Linked DNA regions of Homo sapiens: regions 2 and 3 are each reported to be linked to region 1. Evidence: microRNA targets listed by miRTarBase, many of them from high-throughput screens and not tested one by one. Region 1 holds a microRNA gene; each other region holds the end of a gene's coding sequence.

Region 1 (7,124 bases):
GGCCTCCCAAAGTGCTGTGATTACAGGCGTGAACCACTAGGCCAGGCAGAAATACTCATTTTGAAATTACCCCAATCCTATCACACCTCATTTCCTTGCTCTTTTCCTACGCATCTTCGCCTAAATCAGTGCACATGAAATTGATGCAATTTTGCCACAACTTAAATCTTCAACTTTAAAGAACTGTACCATGTAAGGTACCTTAGAAAACATACCCAACCATCTCAATTCATAAAGGAAATTTAAAGCCCCAAGTATGAGAACATCCCTAGATCACGATTCTTCCTTCCACTGGAGCAAGGGGCTAGGCAGCAGAGGGGCAGGATGGGAAACTCCACTGAATTTCCTTTCAACTTTCTCACCCCTGGAGACTTTTAAATGTATTACTGCTCATGATCAGGCAAGGGTGGTTCACACCTGTAATCCCAGCACTCTGGAAGGCCACGGCCGGTGGATCACTTGAGGCCAGGAGTTCAAGACCAGCCTGGCCAACATAGTGAAACCCTGTCTCTAATAAAAATACAAAAAATTACCTAAATCCTGTCTACTCTACCCAGGAGGTGGAGGTTGCAGCAGTGAGCTGAGATCACACCACTGCACTCTAGCCTGGGAAACAGTGAGATTTTGTCTCAAAAAATAAAATAAAATAAAAAAAAATACTACTGTTCATAGTAGTTGGAAAAAGATGGAATGCTAATGCACAAATTCGTCTCATTCCTAGAATGATAAATGCTCAAACTAGACTAGTGAAATGAGACATAAGAGTTTTTACAAGGTAGTGTCTGCCTGAGCAAACTCAAATAATTACTCAAGTAAAGAAAGGAGGCTGTCCTGGCCAGCACTTTGGGAGGTAAAAGCCAGAGGATAATCAGGAGTTCAAGACCAGTCTGGGCAATATGGTGAAACCGTCTCTACAAAAATAAAATTAGCCAGGCATGGTTGTATGCACCTGTAGTCCCAGTTACTAGGAAGCTTGAGTCCGGGAGGTCAAGGCTGCAGTGAGCTGTGATCATTTCACTACACTCCAGCATGGGTGACGGAATGAGACCATCTCAAAAACAAAACAAAAAGGAGGGTGATCCTGAGCAGTTAATTGTCTGTACAAAGTCACACAAGTGTTTACAAAAATGGAAGAGCTGGAAATTGCTCGTGTTAGCTTTATTAAAACATCTGTAAATGACCATCCAATCACCAAATTATTGCTAATGAAAAATGAAACTAAGAACAAATCATAATAATTACAAATGAAAAATGCATCTACTACTGCAAGGATGGGGATAAGGGTTAAGGATGACTTAAAAAGCACTAGTTTTGAAGTATGCAGTGTTTTTATTGAAAAGATGTATAACTTTTAACAAAATATGTAACACTATTACCCAGTCAAGACAACCACTTTCATTTTATTGACCTTCCAGTTCTTGTACATATTAAACAGACAAATCACTGTTACATACCATAATGAGCAGCAGCTCAATTACCCATTCCCAAACCATGCAATTCCACCCCAGCCGCCCCAAATTTTAAATCCAGAAGACAAACCTAGAAAAGCAGCAAGATAAATATTTACAAACATTGTAGAAAAACAGCAGTATTTCAAGTTTTGTTAAATTCTTTCCTTCAGACATAATGTAGACATAGAGGAGGAACAGCTGAGAGTCTCTGCATCACAGAAAGAGAAACCTGAGCAAAAACAAAACCATGCTTTCTAAACTTTCCAGTGACACCAAAAGGGAGACACTAGCAACTAAGTGTACTTCAGAAGTCTCAAATTCTCATTAGTTGACTTTCAGTTATCAATGTCAGCACCATGCTGCAGTTTATAATCACTAACGCAAACACTGCTCTCTTTGATATTCTTGCAATGTTTTCATTTGAAAAAACCTACAGAAAGAACTCTGCTTACACCAAAGCAAAGTAGCAAGGAAACAGGTTATCGGTGAATAATAAGGCCCTAAGAAAGGCAGCAGGTCGTATAGTTACCTCCTTGTGGGCAAAATCCCTGCCCTAAAACTATGCAACCTACTACCTCTTCCTAGGAACCCATTTTTTTTTTCTTGCTGGTCTTCTACTTGGCAGATGCACTTCAAATTAACCTGTTAAATTAGGTCATGTTCTTTGAGTTTTGTTTCTAATTCAAACTAATCAGAATTCTTTAACTAATGCTTTTGAAAAGTTATCTGGCCATATGACCTTGGTAAAAAGCCACAAATACATTTGCTTAAAATCCAACCTCAAGTCACAAACGAACAAGAAAGTAATGACATCAGAGGATGTAAGCCAGTAGTCTAATACTCAGCCCACCACGTATTACTGGAGTCGCTGACTTTTAACATTTAATTATCAATTTTTTTTTTGGACAGTCTCGCTCTGTCACCCAGGCTGGAGTACAGTGGTGTGATCTCGGCTCACTGCAACCTCTGCCTCCTGGGTTTAAGTGATTCTCCTGCCTCAGCCCCCAGAGTAGCTGGGATTACAGGCGCCCACCACCACGCCCAGCTACTTTTTTGTATTTTTAGTAGAAACAGGTTTTCACCATTTAGGCAGGCTGGTCTCAAACTCCTGACTCAGGTGATCCGCCCACCTTGGCCTCCCCAAAGTGCTGGGATTACCGGCATGAGCCACCACACCCGGCCTAATTTTTGTATCTTTATTAGAGACTGTGTTTCACCAGGCTGGTCAGGATGGTCTTTAACTCCTGACCTCAGGTGCTCCACCCGCCTCAGCCTCCCGAAGTGCTGGGATTAGAGGTGTGAGCCATGGTGCCCAACCCAGTTACCAACATTTAAATATCAAATTTCATAAAATCTCCAGTCTCTCCTGTTAACTGGAAAAGTAGGTGACAATGTATATAAACCCTGCTTGCTACCTATCAACCAGAGCAAATTAATTTACTATATTTGCCAGTTACAACTAGCCCCTCCTGGGCCTCTGATGGTATTTCAGTTTTTGACCCCTGAATTAAAGCAAACAGAAACAAATTCTGATCATGAATTTTATCATCATTAAAAACAAGCTTTCAGAGATAGTCATTCTCTCCATAAAGGCATTTTTAAAGTTTTATTTCGATTTACTTACTCTGCTTAGCTAATAACAATGTCCTTATGTAATTAATAAAATATATAAATTAATTTTTCTCCAGGGCTTAATTATTAGATAAGGATACGTTTCCAACTGAAGGTGGCAACGTTATGCTGGAAGAACATGTCAGGAAGACCACAAAATTTCATGACTGTACTTGCTACACTTTCAGCAGAAGAGTTATACATATTTTCAATTCAACAAAGATTAAGCCAAAAAGAATTCTTAGAACATTCCCACTCTTCTTTGGCACATCAAAAGGCAACAAATGTCATTTTCTCCCATGTTTTTATGTGCAGTTTAGAACAAAGACCAATTATCTATGCAGCTGTCCACAGTGGATAAAACAAAAAGCATACATTTGGTCCAGAGTTAAGTCACCTGGGTTGGGCCCATCCAAGGAAGTTTGATGTTTCTACTCTCATGAAAAGTACCAATGGCACTGCACAGTGATTATCTTAGATATTAAGGATAAACACAAATTTCTCCTTAAATTTCCATTTATTGGAAATGATTGGAGGGAGGGAACTTCTCCCTCACCTCCACACTGCCTCTTTTCCAACTCTTCTTCCAACACAAAATAGTTTAAACAGCAAGCACTTAGAGAGCTTTTAGCCTTGCTTGTTGATTACAAGGCCCAAGTTAGTGTATGGTTTGCCCATCGGAGGAAAGCTAAAACATGGGCCTTCATGGGTATTAAAATTGAAGAAACCTTTTCCAGCATTTTTTCTATTTTCTTTAAAGTAACAACCTATGGACTTCCCCATCTGACATTTTCGAGTGATCCCACTGTGTGAATGAAGGACTACTTCAGGGTTTGAGGGCAAAGCTGAAATCTTAGCAACTTACCAGTGAGCAAAGGTAGAACCCAGAGCCCATCTCTCCTTTTCCAGGCTGCTGAGTAAAGTCTGGCTCAATCAACCTATCAATGAAGCAGTGCTTACAACATTCTCCAAGACCACCCAAAACCCAAACTGGAAATGAATCATGACTAATCTGACTCATTTTGGCTCACACAGTGCCCTTCCAATTTGTATTTACCTTTACCACCCAGGACCTGACCTTGGACATGTGTACCAGGATGTAAGGCAATAAACCTATTCACAATTCCAAAAGGGCCTGGTCCTCTATGAAGATTTCCTGAAGGCTACTTACTTTCTCTACTCATTAAAATTTTTGCTTAACTTCAAATTTCTGAAATATACCATATGTGAAAAATTTAAATGTTAATCTGTGCCTACTGTACTACTTGAACAGAGAAAATTAACTGATAAACTGTAAATACAAAATGTCAAAATTAATTCTTCTGAGTTTTAATATCATCTAAATAAAAAGAAAATAATGCAGCAAGTCTACTCCTCAGGGAAGGCAATAGATTGTATAGTTATCTCCTGAACAGGGTAAAATCACTACCCCACAACTATACAATCTACTACCTCACTCTGATAGAGCAATGTTTTCTTCTGGAATGGAAAGTACAATCTCTTTCGAAAGAAAATTTCAACATAAAATTATCAGCATAAATCAAAATAAAAAAATACATTTATTCTGACACAGAGAAATAAGACAAGAAGCAAAAGGTTTCCCCACCCCCATCCAGTGTACTTGCTACAGACTTTATCTCTAAATTAATTTATTTCCAGGCCATAAACAAATGCTGCACTACATCTCTTTAAGACAAGTTAATCTTAAATATTGTACAATTAGTTAACTGACTTTCTATCAGACCGCCTGGATGCAGACTTTTCTATCACGTTAGGAAAGACAGTAGATTGTATAGTTATCTCCCAGTGGTGGGTGTGACCCTAAAACTATACAACCTACTACCTCATCCCACAGTGAAGAGAACATCCAGGGTGAATGGTGAAAAGGAATCACAGTTGAGCACCACAGGAAGGCTTTTTTTCCTCCTCGGTAATCCTGGTTTCCTGTGTGAGTGATAAGAAAAATAGTATTAGACCATTTTCATTCACTTACGTTGAAAATGAAGTTTAACTGAACATTTTGGCTACATGCATAATCTATGCTGTGGTTTCATTTCCTGTATTTCATTAATAGTATTTTAAATGCTTGGTTATCTGAATCCGCTCCTAAAACCATGTATTTACAAGATTCAGAAATCACCCTCTTACCACCACCTTTTACTATTATTAACTGCTGGTTTTCTTACAGTTCCTACAAATGAAAATGCATGAAATAACTTATCCTTCAAGAAACAACAAAAAATCATTACAGAAAAACATGACAGCCTCTAATTAAAAATCCAATGACTTCAAAACCCAAAAGTCCTGTACATCATGCATAATCCAAATGCACTAACATACAACGAGATAATATAAAAAACACACACAAATAGAAACTAATTTTTAAAGGAACCTACTCATTTATCCCATGCGAGCAAACACTAAGTGGTCTTATTAGGACTAAATCAAAGATAATCACCTGGATCTGATTCAGGGTCAGGATCCTTTCCTTTAGATAGAAAGGTAATATGTGGATTGAAGGCAGAGTCCAAAATCTTTAATAAACCCAAGTAATCTAAACTGTATTATTACCCTTTAATTTACAGACTTCATATTTAGGAGGTAGCTACTACGAAGATTATCTTTTAAGATAGGGACTAAATTTATTTTGTAGTGATTTAGTAACCAAAAGCACTAATTTTTAAAATTACAAAACGTAATAAAAAACATACGGCTCAATATAATAGAATTTAAAGTCTAGAAATAAACCCATACATGGGTCAACTGATTTTCAACCATGACAAGACAATTCAACTGGGAATCGTTTTTTCAACAAATAATGCTGACGGCTGTATAGCCACATGCAAAAAAAATGGATCTGCATTCTTTGTAAACTGGTGTGCAAAACACACATTAAAGTAACTTAAAACAACCTAATTTAATGGTAAAATATTTTAATAGATATTTCACCAAAGATATGACTCATAAGCACAAATGGCCAACAGGCACATGAAAAGATACATTATTCATTAGGATGGCTAATAAGATTAATAAAAGTGTTGACAAGGATGCGGAGAAAATTGGAACCCTTAGATTGCTGGTGGGAATGTGAAATGGTGCAGCTGCTTTGGAGAACAAAACTTGTAGACAAGTCAAACAGTTGTTAAGTGGAATCAGAAACACGTATTTCGTCTTTGTCTCCATTTGAAGATCCTGGCTGGCATACAGCTCCTAAAACCCTCAGAATTTCCTAAGTGATGAATGTCTGTTTAATGCTACTGAGTCGATTGGTGGCTCCTGTAGTTTCAGGAGGGGGATAGTCACCAGAAAGACCAAGGTGTGATTAGAGGGGTGGAACTTTCAGCCTCACCCCCTCAACCTCCAGGTAAAGCAGAGAGGACAGAGAGTAAGCCAATCATCAAAGGCCAATAATGTAATCAATCATGCCTAAGTATGAAACCTCCATAAAAACCCCTTAAGTGTCAGGGTTTGGACAGCTCTGAGTTGAAAAACACATCTTCATGCCAGGAGGCTGGTGTAACCCTAACTCCATAGATACAGAAGCTCCTGTGCTAGGAACCCTCCTGGACTTCAGCTTAAGGACCTCTTCATCTGGCTATTCATTTAAATCCTTTATAATAAACCAGTGATAATGAGTGTCTTCCTGTGTTCTGTAAGCCATCCTAGCAAATTATAGACCCAGTGGAAGAGGTTGTGAAACCCCCTAATTTATAGCTGGTTGGTTAAAAATTCAGGTAGAAACCTGCATCTGAAGCGGGGGCAGTCTTACGTGTTTGAGCCCTCAACCTGTGAAGTTTGTACTAACTTCAGGTAGTTTCAGAATTAAATTTAATTGTAGGACACTCTGTTGGTGTCGAGTTGAAGAATTGATTGTTGGTGTCAGAACTGGTTAGTGATGAGTAAAAAACAGTTCACCATATGACCCAGCAATTCCATTTCTAGGTATATACTCTAGAGAACTGAACATGGCTGGGTGTGGTGGTGCAGGCTTATGGTCCCAGCTGAGTTACTCAGGAGGTTGAGGCAGGAAGATTGCTTGAGCCTAGGAGTTAAAGGTTGCAG
Region 2 (7,124 bases), not on the chromosome of region 1:
GAAGTAGGGGAATCACTGGAACCCGAGAGGTGATGGTTGCAGTGAGCCGAGATTGCGCCACTGCACTCCAGTTTGGCAATAGAGCGACACTCTGTCCCAAAAAAAAACTCTGGCCAGGTGTGGTGGCTCACACCTGTCATCCCAGCACTTTGGGAGGTTGATACCATTAGAAAACATGAAGACAGTAAATGAAAAAATGCAGGGCCGGGCGTGGTGGCTCATGCCTGTAATCCCAGCACTTTGGGAGGTTGAGACAGGAGGATCACCTGAGGTCAGGAGTTCGAGACCAGCCTCGCCAGTGGTGAAACCCCGTCTCTACTAAAAATATAAAAATTAGCTGGGTGAGGGCTGGGTGTGGTGGCTTACGCCTGTAATCCCAGCACTTTGGGAGGCTGAGGCGGGCGGATCACGAGGTCAGGAGATCGAGACCGTCCTGGATAACACAGTGAAACCCTGTCTCTACTAAAAATACAAAAAATTAGCTGGGCGTGGTGGCGGGCACCTGCAGTCCCAGCTACTTGGGAGGCTGAGGCAGGAGAATGGTGGGAATCCGGAAGGCGGAGCTTGCAGTGAGCCGAGATTGCGCCACTGCACTCCAGCCTGGGCGACAGAGCAAGACTCCGTTTGGTAGGCTGAGACAGGAGAATCACTTGAACCCTGGAGGTGGAGGTTTTGGTGAGCCGAGATCATGCCACTTCACTCTAGCCTAAGAGGCAAGAGCGAAACTCCATCTCAAAAAAAAGAAAAAAAAAAACCTCTAAGTCAAGTGGGGCTAACTGTAAAGGTATATTTTTTATACCTTTTATCTTTTATATGTTTGAAATATTTTGTAATGTTTTATCAGGAAAAGTGGAAAAGAAATCCAGATGAAAGGTAAAGGTGTTAGAGATGTGGGCAGTAGATTAGCACGCCTCAAAGAAGAGTGCGGGGAAATTGCCAGTCGCCAAATCACTCATTTCTTTTCATTTTCTTGTAGCTTGGAGGGACGGTTTGAAGATGAGGAGCTGCAGCAGATTCTTGATGATATCCAGACAAAGCGCAGCTTTCAGTATTAATCTCCAAACATCACTGCTGCTCGGAGAAACCACATCCCCAGGCATAACACCACCTTCCCACTGTCTGGGGCTGACTTGCACAGAAATTCTGTTGAAGACAGTTGAGAATTCCTTTGGAGAAAACAGCCCAGCTTGGCGTGGGGTTAGGTTGCTGTTTCAAATAACTCACAGGCCCAGGTGACATGGAATCTTGGAGCAGCCTTGTGCAGTGGCAGCCAGTGGCTTCCTGAACGTGCCTCTGCGAAGTGTGAGATGAGGGGTCACATAACCACACTGTTGACTACCTCATTCCTGGTTTTTGGCCTCCACATCATCTTTTTTCTTAATATTTCATGTTTTAATTTCAGGGTGTTTATACTTTTTGAAACTAGACCAGAAGATAGTAGACTTTATAGAGAAAGACCAGTTTTACCTAGATACTAAAGGAAGAATTAAACCGCTGTTAGTTTGAAATGCTTTTTTTTTTTTTTTTTAAATGGAGATAGGGTCTTAACTCTTGTCCAGGCTGGAGGAGTGCAGTCGTACAGTCATGGCTCACTGAAGTCTTGACCCCGCTGCCTCAGCCTCCCAAATAACTGGGGCCACAGGTGTGCACCACAACTCTCAGCTAATTTTTAAAATTTTTTATAGAGGTGGGGTTTTACTATGCTGTCCAGACTGGTCTTAAACTCCTGGGCTCAAGTGATCCCCCTGCCTTGGCCTCCCAAACTGGTGAGATTACAGGCATGAGCCACCACAACTGGCCTGAAATTCTTAAAGGATGGGAGTGTCGATGACAGCACCTTGGCATCGTTGTGCCTAACCTGGGAGACGGAAGAAGCACGCCATGGGAAGTGTTTACACTTGGGGACAAGTGCTAAGTATTGTGGAGCCCATAGCCCCTTGAGATAGATGGCTACTTTGCCTTTCTTCTTGAACTGTCTTGCAGAATGTGGATTTGGGGTAAGTGGTCTTGAAGGATTCATTTAGTCACCCTCAAATTAAGATTTTTACTTCATCTTTCTTGGGCCTGCACCTCCAAGATAACAAAGAAGAAGCAATGGTCGTGCCAAAGAGGTCCACAACCAGGTGTGCACTGTTCACTGCAGCCCATTTGCTGTATGAACTGTGGTTGTTGTGTGCCCAATGACAAGGCTACTAAGAAATTCATCATTTGAAACGTAGAGGCCGCAGCAGTCAGCGATGTTTCTGAAATGAGCATCCTTGACGCCTGTGTACTTCCCAGGCTGGATGTGAAGCTACATTACCATGTGAGTTGTGCCATTCACAGCACAGTGGTGAGGAATTGAGCTCATGAAGCAGGCAAGGACCGAACACCTCCACCCCAACGTAGACCTGCAGGTGCTGCCCCATGACCTCCACCAAAGCCCATATAAGGAGCGGAGTTGTTAAGGACTGAAGAAAAACTTCTCTGGAGAAAAATAAAATTGCAATTCTACTTAAAAAAATTTTTTTTTTTTTTTACTTCATAGGCCAGGCTTGAAGTTCTGAACACTTTGAAGTCTCCAATTATGAGAGATCCAGTCTAAGCCTCTGGCCTGCTAATTAGCAATAAGTGCTTTATTTGGAAGGAGGGAGTCATCCACTCTTGAGCCACTGCAGTGAAGTCACTTGATCTCAGTCTGGGGGAAAACACTTCAATAGCTAAACATTCTAGCTTTGATTTTTCTGAAGGGAATACACTTGTTTTCAATTTTGGGGTTTTTCTTTGGGGCACTTGCTTGACTCTGTATGAACTTGTGATCCAAGGAAAAAGGAGAAAGAACAGTGTTGGCTTTTAAAATCAGGATGGTTTTATGTTTGCTACGAAATAAGGCAAGAATAAAAAATTCTTATTTTTATTTATTTATTTATTTTTTGAGATAGAGTCTGGCTGTGTTGCCCAGGATGCAATGGCGCAATCTTGGCTCACTGCAACCTCTGCCTTCTGGGTTCAAGTGATTCTCCTGCCTCAGCCTCCCAAGTAGCTGGGATTACAGGTACCTGCCACCACGCCTGGCTAATTTTTTGTGTTTTTAGTAGAGACAGGGTTTCACCACGTTCGCCAGGCTAGTCTTGAACTGACCTCAAGTGATCCTCCCACCTCGGCTTCCCAAAGTGCTGGGATTACAGGCGTGAGCCACCGGCCAATCTTTTTATCCTTGAGCAACTTCGCTTCTTTGAGCCTCATTGGTGTTCTCAATTGTGAAATATGGATAATAGTATCTGCCCCATGGGTATTTTGAGAAGGTTGAATGAACAGGAAATTATTACAAAGAGCCTAGAGGTGTCTGATATATAGTATGTTCCAGTAAATGTTCACTATTCTTAGCATCTCAGGCAGATGAGCTAGTATAGATAGATGATTAAGTCAGCTTGCTTCATAGAAATTAGTGCAAGAATTTGTTAGCCTACCAACTGATAGTATCAGACTTGGAAAATAAATGAAATTGGGCCAGGCGTGGTGGCTCACCCTTGTAATCCCAGCGCTTTCAGAGGCCGAGGCAGGCGGATCACCTGAGGTTGGGAGTTTGAGACCATCCTGACCAACATGGAGAAACCCCGTCTCTACTTAAAATACAAAATTAGCGGGGCGTGGTGGCGCATGCCTGTAATCTCAGCTACTCTGGAGGCTGAGGCAGGAGAATTGCTTGAACCTGGGAGGCAGAGGGGGTGGCGAGCCAAGATTGCACCATTGTACTCCAGCCTAGGCAACAAGAGCGAAACTGTCTCAAAAAAAAAAAAAAAAAAAAAGTGAAATTGCTTACCCAAATCTACAGTTAACTTTCGTTTTTTAATGCTTGATGAATTTGCATGTCATTCTTGGGCAGTGGCCATGCTGTCTTCTCTGTATTGTTCCAATTTGGGTATATGTGCTGCCAAAGTGAGTACTGCAGAATTATTTCTTGAGAGAGGCACTTACATGTGCTGATTGGCACTAAAGCAGTGGAATGGGAAGAAGAGACTTGGAAGGCAGCCCAGACGATCCAGGCGTGTGCTAGATGGCAACTGAGGAGCACGGTGCTACCATCTTTACTGGTGTTTCCACCTATGTGCCAGGGGTTCTGTGAGCTACCTGAGAATACTGAAGTATATAATGCTCTGGCACATAGTTAGGCACTAATCAGTGGTATTTATCAAGGTGATTAAAAGCAGATTTAAAAAGCAGCTCACAGTTGGGCGCGGTGGCTCACACCTGTAATCCCAGCACTTTGGGAGGCCGAGGCGGGTGGATCACCAGAGGTCAGAAGTTCGAGACCAGCCTGGCCAACGTTGTGAAACCCTGTCTCTACTAAAAATACAAAAATTGGCCACGTGTGGTGGCGGGCACCTGTAATCCTAGCTACTTGGGAAGCTGAGACAGGAGAATTGCTTGAACCCGGGAGGTGGAGGTTGCAGTGAGCCAAGATCATGCCATTGCACTCCAGCCTGGGCAACAAGAGCGAGACTCCATCTTGAAAAAAAATAAAATAATAAAAAGCAGCTCATACTAGGGAACTTGGTAAAGCAACCTCATGCTGTTGTAGGTTGAAAGCCTGGTCAGCTATTCTGCAAGACAGTCAAAAATTGTTTACAGGGCTGGACAGCATATTGCTATTGAAAAATAGCTATTAGGAGACCTTGCACAATTTGTGAAACATTGTTAGGCTCATTGTACTGTGTAAAATCAGGAAAGAATTTGGGAACATACTGATACAACAAAAAGATAGGTTGTCAAACCCTCACTTCACCAGAAAGCTAAATTAACCAGATAAGTCTTTCTGAAAGTTTTAGTGTCTTAGTTTGTTCCTGCGCTGTAACAGAATACCTTAGACTGGGTAACCTATAAATAATAGGAATTTATTTCTCACAGTTTTGGAGGCTGGCAAATGCAAGATCCAGGTGCTGGTACGTTCAGTGTCTGGCAAGGGCGGCTTTCTGGTCCAAGATGGTGCCTTTTTTTCTGCATCTTCCATAGGGAATGAACACTCCTTATGGTAGAAGGGATGGAAGGACCAGGCTTTTTTTTTTTTTTTTTTTGGATACAGCAGGATCTTGCTCTGTCGCCCAGGCTGGAGTGCAGTGGCATGATTAAGGTTCACTGCAGCCTCAATCTCCCACTCTCCAGCGATCATCCCACCTCAGCCTCTTGGATAGCTGGGACCACAGGCACGAGCTACCATGCCTGGCTAATTTATTTTTTGTAGAGACGGGGTTTCGCCATGTTGCCCAGGCTGGTCTGGAATTTCTGACCTCTAGCAGTCCACCTGTTTCCGCCTCCCAAATGCTGAGATTAGAGGCATGAGTCACTGCACCCAGCCCGCAGCCTCTTTTATAAGGGCATTAATCCCCTTCATGAGGGATATTCTCTCATGACTTAATCACCTGCCAAAGACCCCACCTCTTAATACTACATCAGTGATGGGTTCAATGTATCAATTGGGTGGGAGGGGGCACATTCAGACCATAGCATCTAGTCATTCTGGTTTTATTAAGATTTATTAGACCTGAGGCATGAAAAATAGCATACTGGATGGGACTTCAGCATCGATGAGTTGCCTTAGTAATACTGTTAATAAAAAGCACTAAATATGCCACTGGTGTCAGATAATTTTTTTACAAAAAATTTTATACTTAACAGAAAACCTGGAAAGACTAGTACATTGATACCTGTGTGTTCACCATCTTGATGTAACGGATAACATGCTATTTGCTTTATCTGTATTTCATTGCTAGGAATGGGGCATTATAGCACTTAGGAACATTGACAAGTATTGCATGTTATTGAATATCCAGCTCATATTGAAGTTTTCCTTGGGGAGAGTTCTGGGTCAAGGGTCAGTCCCAGTAGTGGTGTGGCTCAGTTGTCAGGGTCTAACCTAACAATTGCGGTGAGAAATATTGAGGAAATATATGTGGTTACAGCTCTCAAGTTTCTGTAAAGATCTTTGACTAGATAAAAGTACCTGTTTGCAACTCCTGAATGGGAGATGGGACTAGGGAGACTGCAGGTCCTGGGTAGATTCTGATCAGTATTTGTGCCTACACCCGGCTCTCCTCTCTTCATCAGCGGAAGAGCAGTTTGGAACTAAACAAGGAGAATGCACATTCAATGACAGCAGAGTAGGGGCAGATCTGCTAGAGTCCATCAAACATGGAGCAGGTTCAAAGCAGCGGTGTATGCCTCCCTTCCGTTGTGTGGCACTGTGTATTTTTTTTTTTTTTTTTTGAGATGGAGTTTCACTCTTGTTGCCCAGGCTGGAGTGCAATGGCACGATCTCGGCTCACTGCAACCTCCGCCTCCCAGGTTCAAGCGATTCTCCTGCTTCAGCCTCCCGAGAGCTGGGATTACAGGCGTATGCCACCACACCCAGCTAATTTTTTTGTATTTTTAGTAGAGACGGGGTTTCACCATGTTAGCCAGGATGGTCTGTATCTCCTGACCCCATGATCCGCCTGCCTCGGCCTCCCAAAGTGCTGGGATTACAGGCATGAGCCACCGTGCCCGGCCTGCACTGCGTACTTACTAGCAAATGTTTATTGAGCCCCCATTTTGAATAGCGTCGGTGTGGAGCTACAAGGAGAAACAAGAATACCTGAAATTACAGAATTTGAGGAGAGAGCTCCGTGAGATAGGGGTGAGGGGAACAGCCTAGGAGACAACTGGGAATTTTGAAAGATTCGCAAGGCAAAGCTGTCAGACAGCTTCCTTTGAGATGGGCACATCCCATATCTGAACTGTCCAGTGTACTAGCCACTGGCTGCATGGAGCTTCTGCATATGGTAGGCTAATGACTTAGGAACTGGATTTTAAGCTTAAATTTTATTTATTTTTGAGACAGTCTCCCTTTGTCAACCAGGCTGGAGTGCAGTGGCACGATCCCAGCTCACTGCAACCTCCGCCTCCGAGGTTCAAACGATTCTCCTGCCTTAGCCTCCTGAGTAGCTGGGATTACAGGCACCCGCTACCACGCCCAGCTGATTTTTGTATTTTTTTAGTAGAGACAGGGTTTCACCATGTTAGCCAGGCTGGTCTTGAACTCCTCACCTCAGGTGATCTGCCTGCCTTGGCCTCCCAAAGTGCTGGTATTATAGGTGTGAGCCACCACA
Region 3 (7,124 bases), not on the chromosome of region 1:
TTCTAAAAGGAGCTTCTGAAGTAATTGCAAAGGAATAGAATCGACTATTTTTATAGTATATTTAATATATTTGTATATAACTATAATAGGAACCCTCTACATGCCTCCCACTTTTCTAATTTACTTCCCCTTTTGCCATAGCACTAGTATAGCCTCATCCGCATGGGTAATGTGCCTATTGTCAGCCTACCAAAAGATAGTGCTGCTGCTTTATGAGACAGGTGAGAAGACCCAACTCTCATGCCTGGGGATCCTTTACGGAAGGAATAGCACACACTTTTAAAACAACATACCACAGTCTAAAAGCATCATTTTGAAATGTAACAAGCACTTTATTGCAATTACTCATTTTGATAAAGTTTATTCTTAGGCGTTAACCATTTCTAAAGGATCCCCAAATCATCACTTACTTAGGTGAAATTATATAAAATGACACATTTCTGAGAAATGTTTAGGTCCAGTGAACCGTAGTTGGTTTATGGGAGTGATTTCAAGATAGCCAAATGAACTTTGATTTTTGTTTTGAATGTGGTGGAGTCAAGAGATTGTAGATGCCTAGTTTGATTTAAACACTATTGTAAACCTATCTTGCCTATTGTGTGGACACCAAAAGAGACCAATGAGCCTGTTTATTTTTCAGAGGTCTAGGAAAATTGCATCCGTGTGAGTAGATGTACAGAACTAATCTAAAAGTGATTGCTAGTAACATTTTAGAATATAATAATTTCAAGAATTATTCTGAGTGTTTTAAATGTGCCCTGAAATGTTGGCATGTCATTTCAGCATTTCCATTTGAATTGCTCTTGTAATATTTTTGCACAAAAAGGACTGAGAAAAAGAATACTTTGGTTAAAGGAAAAAAATAGTATAATTTGGTCTTTAATTTTAATGTCTCCTGTGGAAACACTGGGGATGAATTTTGTTGGCACAGTTATTCAGGATATTTAAAACAGTGTTGAACAGTTCACAAGAAATTAAGCAAACTTGGATTTTAAAAATTAAAATACTTTCTTTCCATGTGACTGTTTTGCATAGTTTTTTCCCCCTATGTCATAACACTACATTCCTTGTTTTTCTTAAATAAAATACTCTGCAGGTTTTGTTGTGAGTGTTTATAACAGTATTTTGTAAGCTGCCTGGGTTTCCTCAGGGAAACATTATTTAGTGGAATAGGATATAGTTTATGGAGAGACAACTAAGTGAAATTCCATCACCACCACCAGCAAACACTGAGGTGCTGCATTAAGTGACAATCAAACTAGTAAGTATTTATGAAAGAATTTAGAAAGGGGTTCAAAGAAGCAATTGCTTTTAAAGCAGTTCTCTGGGGTTCTTGAATAAAAATGGCTAAATGTATTTATTTATATTTTAAAATACCTGTGTGTTCTGTTTTCTCATCAAAGTGATTTCGGTGTCATGTATTTAATGTGTGGTTTGTTTTGTTTTGCACCATATTCTTCTTAGGGAACTGGCTCTGATTTGGGGTGCAGTCACCAACTCTCATGATAATCTTTACGGACAGTCTGAATCTACTTTACTTCAGGACGGCAGTGGAGGGGCCAACTCCAGATGCCCCTGCACTTCCCTCCTCAAGTCATCTAAGAAAGAATTTTAGAAATAACTCCTTTCAAATCTGATTCATACAGTTCCAACCTTTTTCTAGTTTCACTTGCTGCCTTCTTTGTTTTATGGGCACTTTTTGTGTGATTACTTCCCCAACACAGTCAAAGGCCAGTATGACAGAACCAATGGCACATGATGCCTCTATTTTGCCCATTTGGGGAAATGTTAGTAAAAGAAATAGCATCTTTTAATGGCTGTCATTATCATATCCATATTAAAATCCATTTAAAGTTCTTAAATTTGGCGGAATAATGTATACAGGCTGTAAACTTCTACAAAAAATGTTTGCTGTCTTTAATATGGTGTCAAGTTACTTGGTCCTTTGAAAACAAAACAAAACTTCCATACACAGCACTGCCCAGTAAAGCAGTGTTGGAATATTGGAAACCTAGACATTTGAGGATCCTTCTTGCTCACAAGCATTGGAACAGAATCCTCCACTTTAGGACTCAGAGAAGCTATGGAGTCCCACAGGCTAGGTATAGCACACAACTTAGAGAACGGTAGTTAAAGCACGTCAACCACAATTGAATTTAATGATCTAAAAAATATTTCTTAACTCTGAGGGTTAAACTGAAGATACGTTTTCAAATAAAAGCTTTTAAATTTCTTAGGAAACAAACTGTGACATCGCTTTTAAAAATGACATTCAAATGTTTATAATGTGTGTTTTTGAGTTGGCTTGGACTAGTGCAAGTTCACTGCTGGCAATGGTTATGCCAGTAGTTAAGTTAAAATAAGTTGTTACCTTCAGATTGATGTCTTGTATAACCAGACAATCATCTTCAAGCAAAAAAATTGGCCAGGAAATGTCTTTTTAAAAAAAAAAAAAAAAAAAAAGATGTGTCAGCCAGAACAGTTACCATTCAGACCATACTGGAATGATTTTGAAATCTTTACTATGGTTTAAGTTGGGGAAGGCCTCAGTATGGCATTTTCATATTCACTCTATGTAAAGATTGAAGCCCAAAGATGAGTTAAATTCAGTGCTGTATTGAAACCAGTCAGTGCAAAAAAAAAAAAAAAGTTTTACCTTTGTAAATTTTTCATTGTTAACATCAGTTGGTAGTTGTTAAAACATGCACCAAATTCTTTATAATGTTCTGTGTGGTTCTCAATGTGATATTCTTGACATTGCTGTCCTTACTGCTTGGTTCTTGGTTTTAAATTAAAAAGTAGATGTAGCTCATCATTTTTACTTCCAAAACGGTGGAGCTAAAAACGGCTAATTGATCTTGAGATAAGAATACCCTTTACTAAGGCAAAGATTTAATTGAAATCCAAAATGATTTATAGAAACGAAAGGCATTTTCCATTTGTTGTCTTCTGCCGAAATTCTGAATTGCATACACACATGAAGGATAATGAATGGTTTCAACGGTGCTATATTAGGTTCTCTGATTTTCATGACCTATGTATGTTTGGAAATACAATATTGTATAAAATGTGGATCGTTTTGTTACCGATTTAATATTGCCATTTTAATTTGGTGTAACAATTGGTTACACTTGTTTTTCAAAGCTATCCTTTGAGGAGAAAGTCAAAATGTGTTGTTAGCCTACCTCCACTCAGGCCTCTTGCTGTGTAATCATTATTCCAGGTTATGATGTGCATAGCTTTTAAAACTGCGTGTACTATTATTCTGCTCTTTCCCATACTCTTGTCATGTATTCAGAACCTAAACTTATAGCAAAAGAGCCAAGCAGTAGCAGTTTTTGTAAATGTAAAAATAATTAGATCCAGACTTTGTTTCCTTCAATTTTAAAAATAAAAAATACCTCAGTGCTATGTTTTTCAGTTATCACCTGCATTTCTCAAAAAATAACACCTGCTTCATGTGGCACATAACTTGTAAGAATCACATTTTGGATTTTAAAGAAAGACTATTAAATATTTTAAGATCACTATCAATGACATTTCCCTTTCTTTTATTCAACAATGGAGCCTATTGCAGTAGCGATTTTTACCTTATAGCTTAGGTCTGACTTACCAAAAATTCTCAGAGGAATTATGTCCTGCTACAAGATTGTGGTGCCTCAGAATGCGATGCTGTTCTTATTCGCATATGAAGCTAGTAATGGGACCAAGCTACCTGAACTGAGGTTACACGATGATGGTGCCAGCTACTCCCTACGAGGAATTGTCTTTTCTGTTGTTATTAGAAAAAACGGTTGGGTGCGGTGGCTCACGCCTGTAATCCTAGCACTTTGGGAGGCTGAGGTGGGTGGATCACCTAAGGTCATGAGTTCAAGACCAGCCTGGCCAACATGGTAAAACCCTGTCTCTACTGAAAATACAAAAAAATTAGCCAGGCGTGGTGGCGGGCACCTATAATCCCTGCAACTTGGGAGGCTGAGGCAGGAGAACTGCTTGAACTCAGGAGGCAGAGGTTGCAGTGAGCCGAGATTGCGCCACTGCATTCCAGCCCAGGTGACAGAGTGAGATAGATTGTCTCCAAACAAACAAAACGTATTAGTAGGCCAAGCATGGTGGCTCACGCCTGTAATCCCAGCGCTTTGGGAGGCTGAGGTGGGCGGATCATAAGGTCAGGAGTTCGAGACCAGCCTGGCCAGCATGGCGAAACTCCATCATCTCTACTAAAAATACAAAAAATTAGCCAGGCGTGGTAGTGCACGCCTGTAATCCCAGCTACTCGGGAGGCTGAGGCAGGAGAACTGCTTGAACCCGGGCGGTGGAGGTTGCAGTGAGCCAAGATCACACCACTGCACTCCAGCCTGGGCGACAGAGTGAGACTCTCTCAAAAAAAAAAAAAAAAATACTAGTGAGAATTCCTCACTCTTTCTTTATAACAAACAAACAATCTAAGGCAATATAGACTGTCTAACCACAGAGTTTATCTTAATCCACAGACATTGTTTTCTACCCTTTGATACTTCCTATAGCAGAAAACTACAAATATGACCTTTTTTACCAACATGTGCTACTTCTAACTTGGCATTTAAGCTGAAAACTCCTCTTAAGATCTCCACAGTAGTAGCTATCATCTTCCTCACAGAGTTACCATGTAGGACAATTGCTGCATCCTACAGTGCTGGATGATTAACTGGGTTCTTTCACAATCTCTTCAAATTGCAGACTACATTGTGGACCTTTGTAGTAGCTCATAAACCTGAATTGCTCTGGGTCTCCTATTATACCTCACACAAATAACATGGATGTTTCTGTAGAATTGTCCTTCAATTTAGTGAGGCTATTAATGGGAATGTTACTGCATATGATTCTAGAATATAAAAGGCTGAGAGAAAGCAGCTGTTATGCTACTTGGGTGAAGTAGTAGTCAAATCAAAATATACTCAAACGAGGGTGACGACTGAAGTTGCCATGAAAAAATGAGGTAGTCTTAGCATAATGAATGACATTAGGCTCTGGAATTAAACCGCCTGGTGTGACTCTACCATGTAACCTTGGGTGAGTTAGTTTTTTTCTTTTTTAACCTTATATTAGTACCTACTACCTCACAGAACTGTAAGGGTGACAATGCTTTCGAACAATGCCTGGCTCCTGTTTAGCTACTTTAGGCATATCTCAAATATTTAATATGTTAGTGTTTTTACATCAGCTTTAGAAATTGGCCTATCAATACTGATAATTTTATATGACACACAAGGAAAAACAAGCACTGGTCATACCACTTTTATTTATATTGTTATCTATGTTACATTGTTTATTCAATATAGAAAAAATATGAATACATTCATAGTATTCTCTTTTAATTTGGTAATTCCACATTGTCAAATATTGACTGTTTTTATATTGGGTGTCCTACCCAATTAAAAAAAAAAGAGGAAGAATGACCTGGCAGACAGTTCTTGTTGTGCCATGTTATTGATATAACAGCAATATCATATATGTCTCTTTTTTTAAACACCTAGTTTTGAAAAGACCAATGATTAAACTACTGTTTACTGGCTCAGGGAAATGTTTTAAGAAATAGAAATTAATTCATTCTTTCCCCAAGAAAAACTTTAAGGTAAACATCTTAAAACACCTAAGTGATGAAGGAGAAAATTTGTATTCCTTAAAAAGGGGTCAGTGCTGAAAGAAAATTGCATGGTAGACCCCACTGCACAACGGTTCTGCACCAAAAGAAAAATGAGGACCATATTAACATAATTATGTTGGAGAGAAGAAAAACCCACACTTAGAAGTCAGGTTTCTTTTAAAACTCCTTGTTACAAATAGAATCAATGATTATATCTCAGACATAATAATGGGTCAAACTCACAAAATCAGTGCTACAAAATACAGTATTTTTCCATCACTTTTAGTTGTAATGTACACTATGTACAGAAAGATAATACTACCTATTTTAAACTAAATATAGATGAACAAACAGCTTGTTAAAAACCAGAATCAGGGCTTATAAATAGTGCAGAAAATGCAAACGCCAAAAAAACGATGCCTCCTATGATTGTCACTGGAAGAGAGAGAAAAAAAGTCAAATACAGTAAAATTCCTATACCTTGATACTGTACAAAATGAAAAGGGAGCCGATGAGGCGGCCAATTATTCTTCCAATCTATTAAACTAACCTTGAAAACAAATTAGAATCACTTCAACCCCTTTTACATAACAAGGAACAATACTTAACATGCTTGACTGTGAACACTAAGAATCAGGTTTTCTCCAGCACTGTTTTGAGAAATGACAGGATTGTATTAAATCCAGACAGTGCTGGCAAGCAACAGTAGAACTATAACTCATCTTAAAATCCAGTTATAAAAGAAAATGTTCAGGTCTTCTGACTAGCAAAGAGACGATTCTTCCATCTCTAGACCTAACTGTGGCTTCACAGGACATATTCAGCAGAATCAGTACATATGGTCTCCACATGATTCCAGTCTTGTAAGACACATTTTTAGAGCCAAAAACTTCTCATACTTCCAAATGACAATTGTTTTACTAAGATAATATGTTAACAAGAAGCTACTATGAATTCGATAAAAATGACTTTGTATTTTGCTAACTTCTACACAGGTGAAAAAAGTCCGTATTTGCAATACCAGGATTAATACCTCTATAAGAGATGGTAGGTAATTAGAAAAACCAAGTATACTTCAGCAGCAGAAATTTAAATAATCAAAGCTAACACCCTTTAATCTCTCAGTGATTCTAAAATGTTATCTGATTTGTAATTTTCAAGACTTACCAGTTCTGACAGAGATTTTCTGTGCTATCATTCTTCCTCCAATTACTGCCAATCCCGTGCACAGGCAGTGCCCCACAGTTCCACCCACGGCTACACCATAGGGGTCCTGGAAGCAAGCGTCACAGCATTAATTCAAAACCAAGGTGACAACTGCTGCTTGAGAACCATAACAATTCAGAAGCACTAAAAATGGTGGCCAACAATTAAAAAGCATAATAGTTATAAAAATGCAGGTGTATAATAAATTTATGAGAGGTGTAATGGCTGCTTGAAGGAATATGTACCAGTTATACTTAAGACTAGACCTAAAAGTTGAAATAACCCAAATCAA

Evidence for each region. The annotated mature microRNA hsa-let-7a-5p reads UGAGGUAGUAGGUUGUAUAGUU and lies in region 1 at 4,888-4,909, opposite strand. An mRNA with a match to its seed (bases 2 to 7 or 8) in the 3' UTR can be bound and repressed. Matches are read on the target gene's strand: a 7mer-m8 pairs with bases 2 to 8, a 7mer-A1 pairs with bases 2 to 7 and ends in A, and an 8mer does both.
Region 2: miRTarBase lists POLR2D as a target of hsa-let-7a-5p. Seed matches in the 3' UTR shown: 8mer at 1,336-1,343.
Region 3: the mRNA of TMEM165 is a reported target of hsa-let-7a-5p. The part of its 3' UTR that is shown has no 7-base or 8-base seed match.

What each region holds. Positions count from the first base shown.
Region 1 is chr9:94,173,747-94,180,870 of GRCh38, reverse strand. It overlaps MIRLET7A1 (microRNA let-7a-1), which reads right to left and starts at 4,914; the gene lies at 4,835-4,914. MIRLET7A1HG (miRlet-7a-1/let-7f-1/let-7d cluster host gene) reads right to left here. Exons shown (of 5, transcript NR_170278.1): 2 at 4,906-5,006; 3 at 950-1,051. It overlaps MIRLET7F1 (microRNA let-7f-1), which reads right to left and starts at 4,524; the gene lies at 4,438-4,524. LINC02603 (long intergenic non-protein coding RNA 2603) reads left to right here. Exons shown (of 3, transcript NR_160773.1): 3 at 3,140-4,302. It also overlaps MIRLET7D. RefSeq lists an enhancer at 1,577-1,626.
Region 2 is chr2:127,842,038-127,849,161 of GRCh38, reverse strand. It overlaps POLR2D (RNA polymerase II subunit D), which reads left to right. Exons shown (of 4, transcript NM_004805.4): 4 at 977-5,609. The coding sequence ends at 1,055. It also overlaps the pseudogene RNU6-395P and the pseudogene RPS26P19. Among named protein-coding and RNA genes, the nearest start is that of POLR2D, 13 kb to the left of the region's middle.
Region 3 is chr4:55,424,313-55,431,436 of GRCh38, reverse strand. It overlaps TMEM165 (transmembrane protein 165), which reads right to left. Exons shown (of 6, transcript NM_018475.5): 5 at 6,794-6,899; 6 at 5,262-6,061. The coding sequence ends at 5,985. It overlaps CLOCK (clock circadian regulator), which reads left to right. Exons shown (of 23, transcript NM_004898.4): 23 at 1-3,534. Among named protein-coding and RNA genes, the nearest start is that of TMEM165, 32 kb to the right of the region's middle.